Linked DNA regions of Homo sapiens: region 1 is reported to be linked to region 2. The links are microRNA targets in miRTarBase. Many come from high-throughput screens and were not tested one by one. Region 2 holds a microRNA gene; the other region holds the end of a gene's coding sequence.

Region 1 (3,000 bases), not on the chromosome of region 2:
CCTAGTTTACTTCTGGCATACATGCACACTAGGTCTGACGTTAGCCACGGAGCAAGTGAAATTCAGACTGGTAACAGGGATTATTTCTGGGCCTCCCGCTTTTAAAGTTCCCCTTTCTCTTGTTTCCCTCATTTCTCACCTCCTACAAATGGTGCAGGGAACAGGGAGCCCGAGATTTTATTTGCTACGCCTTCATGCAAAGCAATTTGATTTGTTTGTTTAGTTTTGTTTTGTTTCTCTCTAAAGGGTAAAGATGCTCCCAATTTGTGGCAGGACTGTGTTTCTTTATGCCCTAACAATCATGAGACAGCCTGGGAGACTGAAATTCTCTCACCCTGTCCCCTACCCCCGCTAGGGAAAAAAATGCTAGACAGAGCTGGGTTTGTTCAGGAGCTGGGGCGGAGCAATGCCTGGAGAGAATTCCCCTTTTCTGGGGCTGTTTGATGTCTGAATTTTGAAGATTTACATCAAAAGCGAGAAAAGCAGTGTTATGGCAAGTTGGGTTAAGACTCTTGCTCCGCTTTTAAGCAAATGCTTCAAAACAAACAAATCCTGATTGAGGTGGCTGGACCTGGACCACCTCCTTTATAACTACTACATGGCCTGCCTGGACCTGGGACATCTTCTTTTAGATTTAGGATGGGCTAAGAGTGAAACAAACTTCCAAGTTTCTCTTATTTTCCTCAGAACAACAAGGAAGGCACAGGACCAAATTATTCATTCAGCATCCTGACAAATAATCAGCGGAGATAAAAATTGTAGCCTATCACTGCAGATAAAACTTCTCTAAAAAAAACCAAACAAACAAAATAAAAGAACTAAGACATTTCTTCAAAGAGACGGACAAAATTATTTTTCAAAAATCAAATGACAGTGAATCGTAGTGGGGAACCTTGCAAATCAGCAAAGTGAAGCTGGTAAATCTCACTTCCTATTCCCTCTTAGTGAATGTTTATATTAGCAGCGCTAAGAAGAGCTTGGTTGTGTGTTTTACCGGCATGGAAATCAGACGGCTGAAGGTTGTCACTCATGTACTCCTGTATTTTAGTCTTCCAACCTATCTCAGTCTTTAACTACCGGCAGCCAAAACAGAAAAAAACAAACAAACAAAAAACAAAAAGAGAGAGAGAGAGACTTATGTGGCAATCAGACTTTTAAATATATTGATTGGCCTAGTAGACTGGAGGAGTGTATTTCGTAAAGCCAAGAGTATGTGAATACGGAAGTAAGTTGGCCTAAACGAAAACAACGGCCACAGCAGCAAAAGCCTCCCAATGTACTGTGCTTGGGAACCTTTGAACGTGTCATAGGCAACTCTAGATATTTAGACCAGGACATGCTGGGAATGCAGCTACCGAGACAGCTGTGTGCCATGTTTGTGAGGGTGACCATGATCTGTCTTCTGTCCACTGCTTTTAGCAGGAAAACTGGCAGTGTGGCAAGGGGGTGGTTCTACTTCAGAACAGAAGTATCTAGAATTGGTGTTGCTAAGTAAAAATGACTGGGGTAAAGGCACAAGGGAGAAAAGATCAGAGCGTGAGCATCCTGCATTCAGTAATAAACAGCATTTCCCATCGGAGGGGTCTGTGTTGAAAGACTCCCAGGTAGTTATGGCTTTGAGACAGTGAGGAAATGATGTCTCCGTAGCAGATTTATTTGCCAGGCAAAAGTAGAATGTCTGCCTATTTGATGTCAATATATTAATGTGTCAGATACATTGTAAAAAATTATTACATGGTTTTTGAAAAGGGAAACATGCAAGAAGCCAGGGAAATGTAAAGGAGGTGATTTTTTTTTTTTTGAGTAGGAGCAAAAAAGAAAAGGGAGCAAAAAATCACACAGAGGGTGTGTATTTAACTAACTTTGTATTTTGCCACACATTGTTTTCATTTACAGCTATGTCTGACAAATGAGCACGTTTGACATCACTGATAAATGCAACACCGTCTAGGGCCTACGAGAAAACCAGGGGGCTCGGCTCCGCTGGAGCCTCTGCCCGTGGATTTGTTTAGGGAAGGGGAGTCGAATATCTATTTTTCTTCTTAGTAAAATTATCTGCCAGAGAAACAATGAAGCATGAAAAAGTACTATTTAGAATGTGCATGCCTATATATGATTTTAAAATGCTAATTGTTGCATTCCGGGAAACTTTCCATTATATATATGCATATATATGTATCTTTGTAATTTCAGTGAATTTTTAAAACTAGTATGGCAGGTTGAAAGCAATGCACCTGTTTACTTGCACACACCATAAATCGAAAAGCAGGAGTGCGCTTTCCTACCGGTCTCTATGAAACCCCCAGACAAGAGGCATAGTTAACTACTACATTTAATAGCCTTCTTCTCTAACACAGTAATTTTTATTTAAAAAGGAGACTAAACAGAAGTCAGGGGTAGGTGGTTCTCCATGACTGCAAATAATAATAATAATGATGATTTTTTTTAATGTACAGCTCTCACACAAATTTCATTTTGTGAACACACTGGTAAGTACACGATGCTGGGGCTTCCAAAATGTGGCGTATCCCACTGATGGCTCCAACTTGCGAGTGGGCTCAGTTCTGTAATTGGAATGAAAGGAATTTTAACACTATTTAGACAAAGATCAAACGCAGCGTAAAGGGGAAAGCTAGATTTCCTCATATGATTTTTTTTTTTTTAAATTTAGAGACTTATTGTAATGAATGGCACTTACTCAGGATTTAGGAGTTCTTTGTAAGAAAAAAAAAACATGTATTTGTTTGCTACTCCCACTATACTTCAAAGTTTTCAGTAATTGTTATTTCTAAAAATGCCTTTTACTAGGAGTTAACCTTCTCTTACAGCCAGCCACTCAAACCTCATTTTTGCCAGCACCTTTGCATTTGATTTTCTAAAGTTTGGGGGCCCAAACCTGCTTATTATATTCAACTACCTTGTAGATTCCTATCAAAATGCTTAATTCTACACAACTATATTTTCCTTCCAATCCAGGCCTCATTTGTCATGAGATAACTG
Region 2 (3,000 bases):
GTCTGCACAGCCCCCTGACAGCATCTGTCCTGATTCTCCTGCACAGCGTTACCTCCACCAGCTCCCTCATGGCATCATCGACATTGACACCCACACATTTATCTCCACTGACAGCCCCAGGACTCTCTAACCAGTGCTGTCTAACAGAAATAGCATGCAAGCTGCATATAGGATTTTAAATTCTCCAGCGGCCACCCCATTAAAAAATTAAAAGAAAGAGGCCAGGCACGGTGGCTCACGCCTGTAATCCCAGCACTTTGGGAGGCCGAGGCAGGTGGATCACCTGAGGTCAGGCATTCAAGACCAGCCTGATCAATGTGGTGAAACTCTGTCTTCACTAAAAAATACAAAAATTAGCCAGGCACGGTGGCGGGTGCCTGTAATCCCAGCTACTCGGGAGACTGAGGCAGGAGAATCACTTGAACCTGGGAGGCGGAGATTGCAATGAGCGAGATTACGCCATTGCACTCCAGCCTGGGCAGCAGAGCAAAACTCCATCTCAAAAACAAGAAAAGAAAGAGATGAAATTTATTTGTTTATTTATTTATCTATTTATTTATTTGAGACGGGGTCTTACTCTGTCACCCAGACTGGAGTGCAGTGGCACAGCTCCCTGCAGCCTCAACCTCCTGGGCTTAAGTGATCCTCCCACCTCAGCCTCAGTCTCCTGAGTAGCTGGGACTACAGGCGTGTGACACCATGCCTAGCTAATTTTTGTTTTTGTTTTTGTTTTTGTTTTTTTGTTTTGTGATGAAGTCTTGCTCTGTCACCCAGGCTAGAGTGCAGTGGCACGATCTCAACTCACTGCAGCCTCCGCCTCTCGGGTTCAAGTGATTCTCCTGCCTCAGCCTCCCGAGTAGCTGGGATTACAAGCCCTGGCCACAGTGCCCAGCTAATTTTTGTATTTGTGGTAGAGACGGGATTTCACCATGTTGGCCAGGCTGGTCTCAAACTCCTGACCTCGTGATCCACCCACCTTGGCCTCCCAAATTGCTGGGATTACAGACGTGAGCCACCGCACCCGGCCTATTTTTATTTTTTCTGGAGACAGGATCTCCCTATGTTGCCCAGGCTGGTCTCAAACTCCTGGGCTCAAGTGATCCTCCTGCCTCAACCTCCCAAGGTACTGGGATTACAGGCATGAGCCACTGTGCCTGGCCAAAATTAATTTTTAATAATTGCCTTTACTTAACCCAATATACCTAAAATATTATTTCAACTTGTAATTGTTTTTTTAAAATTATTCTTGAGATCTTTCCCATTTATTTTGTCCTAGTAAAGCCTTTGAAATCTGGTGTGTATTTCGGCCTGGCTATATTTCGAGTGCTCAGTAGTCACATGTGGCCAGTAGGTGCCATATTGGACAGCACAGATCTAGACTAAGCTCCCACATCATCTACACTGGCTCATCCAAATACTGTCTACACACATACACAGAGCCTGTCTTAATTTCGTCAGCTCCCGGGGACACACTGTATATGTGGGGGTGATCTCACCCCCACCACCACATTTTCAACACTGGCCCGACAATATAGCATCTGCTGTAATATTCCAACACCCTGTCTACACTGAACCCATCAGTAATATCCACACAAGCTCTTCTAGACATCATTCATACTGTTCCTCCCACCATTGTCTATACTGCTTACTCCCCGCCAGGCAATTGGTACACAGATTCCCTCAGGTACTGTCTATACTGGAGTCCCTCAACACTGTCACTGGGTCTGAGCGAGGAGGAGATCTACACTGACTCCTACCCCTCGCCCCCGAATAAAACCCTGTCCCATTGGCCTGCCCCCAAGGACATTGAAAGGTCTTCGCTGTCAATCACGTATGGGATGGCTGAGCAGCAGCCTAGAGCAGGGTTATCTGGGACTCTTTCCTGCAGGACTTGTCAGAACCTTGAATACACTGCTGTGTGTTGTGAGTGGTCATTGCCTATGAGTGAGAAAAGGAGGAGGCATTTTCCTGCAGGACACCCAAGACATGCCTGGTCCAGGCTACCCAGGAAAGCTAGTGGAGAAAAGCAGCTCCTCAGAAGCCTTCTCCATGTCCCCACTGACCAAGGACTCCTAGGCTTCTGCTCTCTGTGGCACCCCATCTACCTAGACTCCTCCTAGGCCTCTCCAGCTCCCGCTGTTTTCCAAATATCCCCGGGCCTTTTCCTGCAGTGTCGTGAATCCCGCGTAGCCCCAGGCCCCCCAAAGCCTCCCAGTCTCTGAACCTCTGTATCCATTTCCTGCAGACCCCCCAGAGGTATCCATCTCTGGCTATGATAACAACTGGTACCTTGGCCAGAATGAGGCCACCCTGACCTGCGATGCTCGCAGCAACCCAGAGCCCACAGGCTATAATTGGAGCACGTGAGTCCTGGGTCTCAGGGAGGAGGGGCTGGGGGTCTGGATTTCTAGCACTGAGGGAGGAGGGGCTGGGGGCCTGGACTCCTGGGACTGAGGGAGAAGGGGCTGGGGGCCCGGACCCCTGGGTCTGAGGGACGAGAGGCTGGGAGCCCGGACTCCTGGGTCTGAGGGAAGAGGGGCTGGGGGTCTGGACCCCTGGGACTGAGAGAGGAGGGGCTGGGCCTGGACCCCTGGGTCTGAGGGAGGAGGGGCTGGGGGGTCTGGACCCCTGGGTCTGAGGGAGGAGAAGCTGGGAGCCTGGACCCCTGGGTCTGAGGCAGGACAGACTGGGGCCTGGACTCCTGGTCTAAGAGAGGAGGGAGATTCAGAAAAGAGAAAAAGAGGAGGTTGACTTCGGGCCCCCAGTGGGGGGCATCTCTGTTTTGACATCTCTGTTTTGCGGTTGAGGCGTTTAGCAGGTGGTTGAATCCTGGCTGGTGGATGCACCTGCTTTTTGGGGTGTGCCTGCTCTGTGCCCGGTACTTCCCCCGAATCCCATGTGACCCCATGCTGTGCACAGTCAGCAGCTGTTGCCCTGCCCAGGTTAAAGACCAGCCACGAGAGGGCAGAAGCGGCCCTTGAATCAGCGCTCGGCTCCAAA

What was found. Region 2 holds the annotated microRNA hsa-miR-4531 (AUGGAGAAGGCUUCUGA, at 2,035-2,051, opposite strand). A microRNA usually pairs through its seed, bases 2 to 8, with sites in the 3' UTR of a target mRNA and lowers its output. Matches are read on the target gene's strand: a 7mer-m8 pairs with bases 2 to 8, a 7mer-A1 pairs with bases 2 to 7 and ends in A, and an 8mer does both.
Region 1: the mRNA of MAF is a reported target of hsa-miR-4531. The part of its 3' UTR that is shown has no 7-base or 8-base seed match.

The regions. Positions count from the first base shown.
Region 1 is chr16:79,591,990-79,594,989 of GRCh38, forward strand. It overlaps MAF (MAF bZIP transcription factor), which reads right to left. Exons shown (of 2, transcript NM_005360.5): 2 at 1,849-2,564. The coding sequence ends at 2,471. Among named protein-coding and RNA genes, the nearest start is that of MAF, 7.2 kb to the right of the region's middle.
Region 2 is chr19:44,651,655-44,654,654 of GRCh38, forward strand. It overlaps MIR4531 (microRNA 4531), which reads right to left and starts at 2,078; the gene lies at 2,032-2,078. PVR (PVR cell adhesion molecule) reads left to right here. Exons shown (of 8, transcript NM_006505.5): 4 at 2,246-2,363.